Linked DNA regions of Homo sapiens. The protein of the gene in region 3 interacts with the protein of the main gene of each other region in a biochemical or structural test. Each region holds a gene or a part of one and is shown on either strand. Other genes may lie near its edges.

The links.
Region 1: of the proteins of PELI1 (region 3) and IRAK4, one has a biochemical effect on the other in vitro, tested with the Homo sapiens proteins (4 studies listed by BioGRID and IntAct).
Region 2: of the proteins of PELI1 (region 3) and IRAK1, one has a biochemical effect on the other in vitro, tested with the Homo sapiens proteins (5 studies listed by BioGRID and IntAct, with this or other methods).

Annotation. Positions count from the first base shown.
Region 1 is NC_000012.12:43,768,837-43,772,585, forward strand, and holds part of IRAK4 (interleukin-1 receptor-associated kinase 4), read left to right. Parts: intron 1-2,201; exon of another isoform or gene 2,202-2,268; intron 2,269-2,383; coding exon 2,384-2,529; intron 2,530-3,343; coding exon 3,344-3,526; intron 3,527-3,749.
Region 2 is NC_000023.11:154,018,349-154,022,097, reverse strand, and holds the start of IRAK1 (interleukin-1 receptor-associated kinase 1), read left to right. Parts: upstream 1-2,195; 5' UTR 2,196-2,285; coding exon 2,286-2,421; coding exon of another isoform or gene 2,422-2,499; coding exon 2,500-2,667; intron 2,668-2,769; coding exon 2,770-2,901; intron 2,902-3,019; coding exon 3,020-3,123; intron 3,124-3,310; coding exon 3,311-3,499; intron 3,500-3,742; coding exon 3,743-3,749.
Region 3 is NC_000002.12:64,137,816-64,141,564, reverse strand, and holds part of PELI1 (E3 ubiquitin-protein ligase pellino homolog 1), read left to right. Parts: intron 1-778; exon of another isoform or gene 779-3,749. UniProt on the Homo sapiens protein: E3 ubiquitin ligase catalyzing the covalent attachment of ubiquitin moieties onto substrate proteins. Involved in the TLR and IL-1 signaling pathways via interaction with the complex containing IRAK kinases and TRAF6.

The DNA.
Region 1 (3,749 bases), on a different chromosome or scaffold from region 3:
ATATGCATGCATATTTTATTTTTGTCAGTCATTGCAGTTAAAACCTATGTCAAAATGTTTCTTTGGTAGCAAAAGGAAAAGAAGACTATTTGTTATTTTCAGCATTAATCTGGGAAAGAACCTAAAAGACTTGGCTCCCTTGCAGGAAATATTTCCTCATAAGAAGAGCGAACATGTTAAATTACTTGAAAGAAGCTTAAGTTTAAACTGTGTTAAGCCAATGTTTAAAGATAATTTTTTGATATTACTGTTAAAAACTTATGGAAGATAATTGGGGCAGTGGTGGCAGGAAGATAAAGCTCTTCTCTTTTTTTTTTCTTTTTTCCAAGACTCATTCCTGTGACAGAAAAAGCTTTTCTTTACAGAATAATACCTGCAAATAATTGTGAAAAGAATGGTAGAATGAGAAAAATACCTATTTGCAACCACCAATGAGTAACTGATTCATGCAAGGCTCATCACTGAACCTAAAAGCATAAGGTGAAAGGTGGTTGTTCTCGTGCATGTGAGCAGGATATGCACAAGATTTTAAAGTATTATAGGCTGAGCACAGTGGCTCATGCCTGTAATCCTAACACTTGTGGAGACCGAGGTGGGCAGATTGCTTGAGCCCAGGAGTTCAAGACCAGCCTGGACAACATGGTAAAACCCCATCACTACAAAAAATTAGCTGGGTGTGGTAGTGCACGCCTGTAGTCCCAGCTACTTGGGAGGTTGAGGTGGGAGGATCACCTGAGCCCAGGAAGTCAAGGCTGCAGTGAGCCATGATCATGCCACTGCACTCCAGCCTGAGTGACAGAGCAAGACCCCCTCAATAGATAGAGAAAAAGTATTGTACACAAATTACTTGTGAAGTATGAAAGAGAAGGGTACATTTTTAATGAGGAAATCTGAAGTACACTTCCTTCACCAAGTGATCAAACTTTAGCACCAATAATAATGGTACAAAATGCTAATATGTACCCCTGGATGTGATACAATGGGAAAGGCACATTATACCTATGTAGTATTTCTACCAAAATGCTTAATCTGAATTTAATCATGAGAAAGTAGTCAGATAAATCTAGGCTGTTAGACCCATTCTATAAGACATCTGGCCCGTATTCTAAAACACACACACCCACAGACACAGATTGAAAGAGAGAATGCACAAGAGCCCAGATATGGCACAATTTTATCAATTATTCAATTGGTGAATCTAGGTGAATGGTTGTTCATTCTATCATTTTTTCAACTTTTCTGTAAGTTTGAAATTTTTAAAAATAAAATCTTTAGAGGAAAAACAGAAAGAAACAATATTGGTTAAATTTTTAAATGTTACTTTTCAAAACTAATTTTTGATTTTAAAGAAATGGAAAGAAATGGGTTGAAAGCCGACTTTGTGATTTTTTTCAATTTAATTGAATTACAGTTAAGATCAAAGGAATAATTTCCTAAGTTTTTGTGTGTTCTGTTTCTTTAATTAAGCAGGTGCATTTATTAAAAATTATATAGCTATCAGAGTCTTAAGTCATGTGGGAAGTAATATTGCTAGTAGATTAAGAATACACTCTTTTGTCAAATGAGATCTGAATTTGTACCTCAACTTGGATACATCATATTGGCTGTGTGGCTATGGGCTGGTTACTCTACCTCTCCAAGCCTGGCTTTTTCACTAGTAAATTCATATGATAATCATAATATCTTTGAACATGCTCATGTGTGTGCATCCTATAACCCACTAAGTAAATATCCAGTAAGTACCCAGTAAATTATTATCATCATCTTTGGCATCTTTTTTCCTCCTATCTTTCCTGTCTCTCTGTAATTCTTGCTGGTTCTCTTGTTGTCCCTTTTCTTTAATGTTGTAGGAGATGCTGTGGGCAAAATGGGCAGGGGAGATCAACACCTATTTTCATATGACCTCAGTTTATAAATGCTATTGTTTGAATGTGTCCCCAAAAGTTCATGTGTTAGAAACTTAATACCCATTGCAACAGGGTTGATAGGTGGGACCTTTAAAGGGTAGTTAGGCCATGAGAGCTTTGCCCTTATGAGTGGATTAATGTCGTCATGGCAGGAGTGGGTTAGTTATCTAGGGAGTGGGTTTCTGATAAAAGGATAAGTTAGGCCCTATTTTTCTTTTTCTCTCTCTCTCTTTTTTTTTCTCTTTCACATGCACGTGTGCATGCTCTTTTGCCCTTCTGCCCTTCCACCATGAGATGATGTAGCAAGAAGGCCCTAACCAGATGCAGCCTCTCGATCTTGGACTTCCCAGCCTCCAGAACCGTGAGCCAAATTAACTATTATTTATAAATTACCCTGTCTGTGGTATTCTATTATTGCAGCACAAAATGGACTAAGACAATAGACTAATTTTGTTTCTTTGTTACTTACTTTTAAGGAGATTTGAAGCATTACTTCAAACTGGAAAAAGTCCCACTTCTGAATTACTGTTTGACTGGGGCACCACAAATTGCACAGTTGGTGATCTTGTGGATCTTTTGATCCAAAATGAATTTTTTGCTCCTGCGAGTCTTTTGCTCCCAGGTAAACTGATTGTGACCAGGGTGTCCACAATTAGGGTGGAAAGACAAATGGCAGAAATATAAATGTTTCTTCTTACTCTTCCTTTTTTCTCATAGTAGATGAAGCTTACATTTGAGAGTCCCTTTCTTTCAGCACTCCTCAACTCTTTAAAAAGCAGCACAGACAAAGGACACTGTGGACTCTGCTGCTAAGGTGATAGAAGCTTCGTAAGAGTTAGATAGTTTTGTGCCAACAGGAAGTTTAGAAGGAAAGACTTCATACTTCTGGCTTAGGCTGTAAGAAAGTAATTATAATTTTGAGTTCTTCCTTTTTTTCATCTTCAACTTCTACCCTGATGGGACTCTATAATCATAATTTTAAAAAATTGTATTCTGATGTGGTAGTGTCTAGTTGCCTTCCTTATAAGCTTTCTTTTTTTCCTTTGATGCCTTTCACACCAGTGGTTCTCAACCTTTATCATGCATAAGAATCACTTAGGTTCTGGTTAAACATGTAGTTTCCTAGGGTCTGTTCCAAATCTATGTAATCAGAATTCTGGAATTGGGTTTAAGGTCTATATTCTTAAACAGGTGCTTCAGTGCCTCTGATATAGGTGGCTCATGGATCACTGTTTGAAAACACTGCCTTACTCTCTTTACCCATCTTCATTATAACTTACAGATTCTTACTAGGCAGCTTCTTGTGTGTGCTGTGAGAATATGAGACCAACCTGTAGAAACTGGAATGATATTAAATGAACCAAGTTTCTAGTTTAACTTTTTCACAACCACTTTTTCTTACTGAAAAACCACTTGTATCTTACTTCATTTGTTAGATGCTGTTCCCAAAACTGCTAATACACTACCTTCTAAAGAAGCTATAACAGTTCAGCAAAAACAGATGCCTTTCTGTGACAAAGACAGGACATTGATGACACCTGTGCAGAATCTTGAACAAAGCTATATGCCACCTGACTCCTCAAGTCCAGAAAATAAAAGTTTAGAAGTTAGTGATACACGTAAGTAACATTTTCAGTGCTTTCCACTAGGGATTTGTCATTAAGACTACCAGTGCTTTAAAAGAAAGCTCTTGCTCTTTTGTTTGTGCAGCAATCACAGGCACACTGGCAATAGCTCTTTTGTGAGTTGTTTCCTCCTGATATATTAAGAACCATCTTCATTGTATTAATCAGTGATTAGAGGCAATAGGACATGCAAACAACCAGAGAAGCTATGAAAAAA
Region 2 (3,749 bases), on a different chromosome or scaffold from region 3:
CTTCAGTTTTTGTGTTTTGGGACAATTACTTTAGAAAATAAGTAGGTCGTTTTAAAAACAAAAATTATTGATTGCTTTTTTGTAGTGTTCAGAAAAAAGGTTCTTTGTGTATAGCCAAATGACTGAAAGCACTGATATATTTAAAAACAAAAGGCAATTTATTAAGGAAATTTGTACCATTTCAGTAAACCTGTCTGAATGTACCTGTATACGTTTCAAAAACACCCCCCCCCCACTGAATCCCTGTAACCTATTTATTATATAAAGAGTTTGCCTTATAAATTTACATAAAAATGTCCGTTTGTGTCTTTTGTTGTAAAAATCAAGTGATTTTTTCATAAGGTTCTTTTACTATTGGAAAAGATGGGCAGCACGCAGTTTTATTTTATTTTTGTAAGTTTTTTAATACATGTGAAAGCAAAGAATACTCAGCATGCCTTTCTAAGTGACGCGTTTGCACCTTTTGTTGGGAAGTACTGTATCCTGTGCTGTTAGCATTCTCGATAAATCTCTCTGTGAAAGTGACTCAAGGTCTGGGCTTTCATTATAAGACAGAAGTCCCCCTCCAGCTCACATGACAGCATGGTGCTGCGTTTCCTCATTGGATCTGGCTGTCCCTGGACACAGGTAGCTGCCTTCAGGCCTGCCACGAGCGGCCAAGGGAAGCCTCCTCCATATGCTGGCCTCGCTGGCCCCTCAGCTTCTTCCAAGCCAGTGCTCTCCAGGCACACTGCTCCAGCGTGTGACGGGAAGGGCCTGGCATGAGTCAGCCTGCAGCACAACCTCCCTGCTCCAGACCCGTATGGTAGGGGCACCCCCTAGGTCTGGATGTGCTGTGGTGCTTTTGGACACCCCCACCCCCGCAGGCTGTGGCTCCTCCTGTGTCTCATTCTGGCCAGGACCCTCACGTGCCCTCTGTTGACTGCTAACGTGGTTCTCTGACCAGGCAAGGGCAGGCTGAGGGGTTTGCCCAAAGGGGGCCCCCTTGTTACTGGCTTCCTTGGCTCTCAGGAGCAGCCTCACCAGGTTGGTAAGGGGCTGGAGGAGACAACTGCTCAAAGGAGTCCAGCTTCACATGCACATGCTAGAAGGTACCCTCGGAAGGCCTGGCCTTCAAAGGTAGATCCCAGGGTTGAAAAGTCAACTTGTATGCATTGAGCATCTCGTATGCCAGCCCTGTTCCGTGAGCTGATGGGCCTTTGTGTGTAAGTAGGACCAAGTGCCCCCGTGGAGGTTAGCATGGGTGTGCAGTCATTTCAGATACTTGAGTTGGTACATCTCAGTAAAGTCTGTCCCGTGAGAAGCCATGGGTTTCATGGTATGGTTGGCATCTTCCTTGGGAGTGGCCACAGTGGTGGTGGCTTCAGGAAAGAGACTCCAACAGGGGCCAGCTGTGGGCCTTGGGCACTTCTCGTTTCTAGGAAAAGTCCTAAGTCTGTAGGGCTAGGGGTGGGGAACCCCTTCGCTGTCAGGATCAAGAGGGCAAGGGGAACTGTCGCTGGAGGAGACATCCAGCTGGAGAAACAAAAGAGTAAGTCTGCGTTGCTGCTTGTGGGGTCTTCCCCATCTCAGGGCGGGGACCGGGGGTGGCGGTCCAGACAAGTAATCAAGGACGATGCCCAGGAGGGGACAGGTACGGGGTGGCAGGAGCTCTGCCGGCGGGCTCAGGAAGCCTTCACCACAGCTGCCTGAGCTCACCCTTGCCAAATGAGGGCTGGGGCAGCAGCAACGCATACACTCACGGCTGTGGCGGGCAGCGTTCTCGGCATATTTCAGGACACCTAAGGAGACTGAATGGCTCAAGGCTGCTGCCGTGTGCAGGGGGCTAGACGTGGGGCGGGCAGGCAGGGCTCCTGGTAACAGCCCTGCAGGCCGCAGTGGAGAGCAGGGTTCCGGCAGGGCCGCCCAGGAGCTTTCGGAAGGCCCGGCCCCGGCCCCTTTCCGAGCAGCCCGGGCCTCCGCCCTGCCCTCTGTCCCCAACGCCGGGAGCCGCCGTTCGTCCTCCAGAGCCCCGCCCGGGCGAGCCCGGGAGGCCGATCGCCGCTCGCGGAACCCGCCGGGACCCGGGCCCTCCCCGGCGCGGGGCGCCCCCGTGTGACCCAGCGCGCGGCCGCGGCGCGCAAGATGGCGGCGGGCCCGGGCACCGCCCCTTCCGCCCCGCCGGGCGTCGCACGAGGCCGGCTCGAAGGGGAAGTGAGTCAGTGTCCGCGGACCCGGCCGGCCCAGGCCCGCGCCCGCCGCGGCCCTGAGAGGCCCCGGCAGGTCCCGGCCCGGCGGCGGCAGCCATGGCCGGGGGGCCGGGCCCGGGGGAGCCCGCAGCCCCCGGCGCCCAGCACTTCTTGTACGAGGTGCCGCCCTGGGTCATGTGCCGCTTCTACAAAGTGATGGACGCCCTGGAGCCCGCCGACTGGTGCCAGTTCGGTGGGTGGCGGCGGGCTGCCGGGGGGCGGGAGGCGCGCGGGCTCCTGGCGCCGACGCCTGACGCCCCCCGCCCCGCAGCCGCCCTGATCGTGCGCGACCAGACCGAGCTGCGGCTGTGCGAGCGCTCCGGGCAGCGCACGGCCAGCGTCCTGTGGCCCTGGATCAACCGCAACGCCCGTGTGGCCGACCTCGTGCACATCCTCACGCACCTGCAGCTGCTCCGTGCGCGGGACATCATCACAGCCTGTGAGCGCGGGACTCCGGGCACCCCACGGCTGGGAGGCCGGCGGGCCCCACGGGGCTCCCCCACCCGGGCCTCAACCTTCCTTTCCTTCCTTGGCGTCCCAGGGCACCCTCCCGCCCCGCTTCCGTCCCCAGGCACCACTGCCCCGAGGCCCAGCAGCATCCCTGCACCCGCCGAGGCCGAGGCCTGGAGCCCCCGGAAGTTGCCATCCTCAGCCTCCACCTTCCTCTCCCCAGGTAAGAGGGCCCGGTTGTTAGGCTCGGTGGACCCAAAGAAGAGCCCACCTTGACCACGGCCACGGCTGTAGACCCTGCTGCTGGTCTCTGCCTGCCTCTCACTGGTGTCTTTATGAAGCTTTTCCAGGCTCCCAGACCCATTCAGGGCCTGAGCTCGGCCTGGTCCCAAGCCCTGCTTCCCTGTGGCCTCCACCGCCATCTCCAGCCCCTTCTTCTACCAAGGTAGGTGTCCCCTGCCCCCCAGGGAAGATTCGAGACAAGGAGGAAGGAATTCAGCCTTTGATGTAGCGCAGAGCCCCAGTCAGCCAAGCTGGGTCAGCTGGGAGGCAGCTGTGGTGGGGAGAGCCTGGAGCCTTGGGCAGAAGGGAAGAGACAGGGACCCCACCTGATCCAGGCTCTCTTCCCACAGCCAGGCCCAGAGAGCTCAGTGTCCCTCCTGCAGGGAGCCCGCCCCTTTCCGTTTTGCTGGCCCCTCTGTGAGATTTCCCGGGGCACCCACAACTTCTCGGAGGAGCTCAAGATCGGGGAGGGTGGCTTTGGGTGCGTGTACCGGGCGGTGATGAGGAACACGGTGTATGCTGTGAAGAGGCTGAAGGAGGTGAGTGTCGCACCCTGGCAGGGACCCTGGAAGGCCATCAGATAACCCTCACCACTTCTCCAGCCTTTCCCCCTCGCTTCCCCACACAACTCCTTCAGCCCTCATTCTGGCGTAGGGTCCCTGGCCCCTTGGTGGTTCTGGGCCTCGGGTAGGTGGCACTGGTGGCCCGAAGGCCTTCGCTTCGAGAGCCTCACGCTGCCCGTCTTCCCTGCCCCTTCCCCCACCGCACCCTGGGGGCTGCAGAACGCTG
Region 3 (3,749 bases):
GTGGACAACTAATGTTTTTAGGCAGAAGCTTCTATAGCTGATAAAGATTTTAAGCCAAAGACTTAGAATTGAAAACTAATATATACATACACATTTTACCATAATACATCAATGTAGACCTATCCTAGTATTTATTAGGTTAGAAAGGCTTTTTGGATTATTTTATTATACAGATATATTTAACTGTAAATATTAAAATTTCATAATGACTAATATATGATGGCACTGAGGTGGCTTTAGGAGCTCCTTTGGGGTGGGGGCGGGAAACATGTTATTCCAAAAGTTACATTTATGTCTTTGAGGACAGTAAAGCAGATTTAAAAGCCAGTGAGAAAAGGAAGAAAATCAGCAAAGTGAAGAAAACCTGATGAAGATGTTTTTAAATAATACAATGTAAAGATTGTTGGCAGCATTTATATATAAGGGACAAAATTCTAGTTGAAGTCTATAAACAGTGAATTCCACTTAGCACTTTCTGTTTATAGATTTCTAGCCATCTTTTCCAGATTCCCTCTGAATATATTACACAGGCAAAGTAAATAGAAGTCATTCTTTCAAGGGATTTGGGTTCTTGGAGATTTTTTTACACTTGTGGTAGTGGGGGAGGGGAAGTGCTTATTATATTTTCTTAGTTTTAAGTGTGACCTGTGCCATAGAATATTTCCCTAGACTAATGTGTGGGAACCTCAAGACAAGAATTATTGGTCATTGAAAGATCTGGATATGATTTCAAGTTCTGCCCCTAGGTTTTTTTTTGTTTGTTTGTTTTTTTTTTTTGCATGTTGTCTTGAGTAGATCACTTCTATTTTTCCTTCAAAGGCTGAAAATAACTGCCTAACATACTATGTTTAGTAGGTCCTAAATACTTTTTGTTGTTTAATGAATTTACAGGTAATAAAGAGAAAGCACAGTGTTTCTTGAATGGATGTCAGGGAATTTCTAATTTTTTTCTTTTTTGATAGAAAAAAGTAATCAAAACATAAACATCTGATTGGAGTCTTTCAGTTAGCTTACCTACCTTCAGAAATAAGCCTAGAGAAAGAGAGCTTCATCTGGTAGTTTAACAGAAATGAATTGTAAATGACTCTTAAGAAGAATTGACAATTTTTCGGAATGTTGTACTAGATGTTTTAGATTCTTTTTGCCACATAAACTCCACTTCAGAGAAATGGGGTTCTACATAGTACTCTTGTATCGCCCCTGTAATACCTTTACACCTCAAAATACCAGTTGCAGAAAAATAGAATGTGTTGCTGATGCCTATAAATGGGAAAATCCTGACATCTGTCTTCATCCTCCAGTTAATCTTCATGTAGTTTTTAAAAAAATTAATTCAACACACATGTAATTTACTTCCTTTTCAGAAAATTTGTTGCTAATTTTTATTTTATAATGAGCCTCTTGGGATGTTGCTAATTCTAAAAATATGTAATACCCGCGGTTTCCCACCATCTTCTGCAGTTTCTTTTTCTATTATTTTTTTGGCTACAGTTTTCTTTTTCCCCTAAGCTGTCTAAAATAAGCTAAGAAATGTTTAAATGTAGTTGACAAGAAACACAGTCAGTAATTTATCATGCTAAAATTTCAACATACAAGGTGCAATGAAATCTGTTTTAGGGATAGTACACTTTTGAAGGGGGCTAAAGCAGGGACAGCAAATAAATTTCGTTTGGGGTACCAAATCTGATTGTTTAGTGGTGGCTGCCTAGAGTGCTGTGTTTAGAAAACTGGGAGTCCTTGTTCAAACTTAGCAGGAAAGAGTACTGTGATTAGCAATTTCTGCTGTTGGTGAGCGGTGGACTTTTGGCATGGATGCCAAATACATTCAGTGTTTATTGATGCCGTTTACATGTCACAGGTCTAGATGCTGATACCTCATAGACTAAAATCTCTGCTTTCATGGTGTTTACATTCTAGTAATAAGACACAAACCATAAAATAAATAAAATACATTGCGTTTTAAGAAAAATGGCTGGGCGCAGTTGCTGACACCTGTAATCCTAGCACCTTGAGAGGCTGAGGTGGGAAGATCCCTCTTGTCCAGGAGTTCAAGACCAGCCTGGGCAACGTGGTGAGACCTTGTCTCTACAAAGAAGTTTCTTAAAAAATTAACTGGACGTGGTCCCAACTACTCGGGAAGCTGAGGTGGGAAGATCACTTAAGCCTGGGAGATTGAGGCTGCAGTGAACCATGATTGCACCACTGCACTCCAGCCTGGGCAACAGAGCGAGACCCTGCCTCAAAACAATAGAAGTTAAAAAATAAATAAAAGAAAAATGACCTGATTTATTCAAAAAATTAATAGCAAGAAATAGGGAGGGAGAACTATAAGATTAAAAGAGACTTAAGAGGCTTTTCCACCAAATGCAATGTATGAAGCTTAGTTCTATCCTGCTTTGAGCAAACTAACTGTAAAAAGACATTTATTCAAAATTGGGGAAATTTAGACTCTGGATATTTAATGAAAAGGATTTGTCCATTTTTTCAGGTGTGAGAATGTACTTTTTAAGTGTTCTTTTAGAGATGTATAATGAAGTGTTTACAACTTAAAATGTGATGTGTGGGTTTTTACTTCAAAATATTGAAAGGGAGAGGAACATAGATGAAACAAGATTGGCCATATATTGAAAATTGCTGAAGGTAGATGCTATATGGATACATGAGGTTTCTTACTTCCTCTTTATTTTTGTGTATGTTTGAAATTTCCCCTAATAAACAGTTTTACACACAAACAGGAAAATAAAGCAGGGAAGGGGAAGGGAGAATAAATGGGATATGTGTATGAGGTTCGGAGGAGGATGCAGTTTTTTGCTTTTTGTTTCTTGTTTTTTGTTTTTGAGATGGAGTTCTGCTCTCATCACCCAGGCTGGAGTGCAGTGGGGCGATCTCAGGTCACTGCAAATTCTGTTTCCTGGGTTCAAGTGGTTCTCCTACCTCAGCCTCCTGAGTAGCTGGGATTACAGGCACACGCCACCACGCCCAGTAGAGTTTTGTATTTTTAGTAGAGACAGGGTTTCACCATGTTGGCCGGACCGGTCTGAAACTCCTGACCTCAGGTGATCACCTACCTCCGCCTCCCAAAGTGCTGGGATTACAGGTGGGAGCCACCACACCTGGCCAAGATGCAGTTTTAAAGGGTAGTGAGAAAAGACTTCATTGAGAAGATGATAAATAGTTAAAGTGAGTAATGACCTGAAGGAGGTAGCACAGCAAGCCTTGCAGGTCTCCTTGGAGCAAGACATTATACACAGAGGGAATAGTAAGTGCAGTGGCCCTGAGATGGGAGCGTGCCTACAACTGCAAGAAACTACAAGAAGACAAGGGTGTGAGCCAGGCATAGTGGCTTGCACCTGTAGTGCCAGCTACTCAAGAAGCTGAGGTGGGAGGATCATTTGAGCCCAGGAGTTCCAGACCAGTCTGAGCAGCATAACCAGATCCTGTCTAAAAAAAACAAAACAAAACAAAAAAAACTAGCGTAACTAGATCAGGGTGAGCGTGAGTACATAAAATCAGCATCAGCATGGGAAAGGAAGGTTAGAGAAGACTAAATTGTGTAGGGCTGGTTATCCATCTTTAAAGGAAAAATATTTTATACACTTATCTAAAATAAGTCTTATACTTTAGAGTAGTCACCATGGAAGCTATACACTTAACAATACTAGCATTACTCAATATTTTTAGAAAAAAAAATTTTTTTTGTCGTCTAAGCCAGTTTAAGAGCCACACGTGAAAATAGCTCATTACTTTGT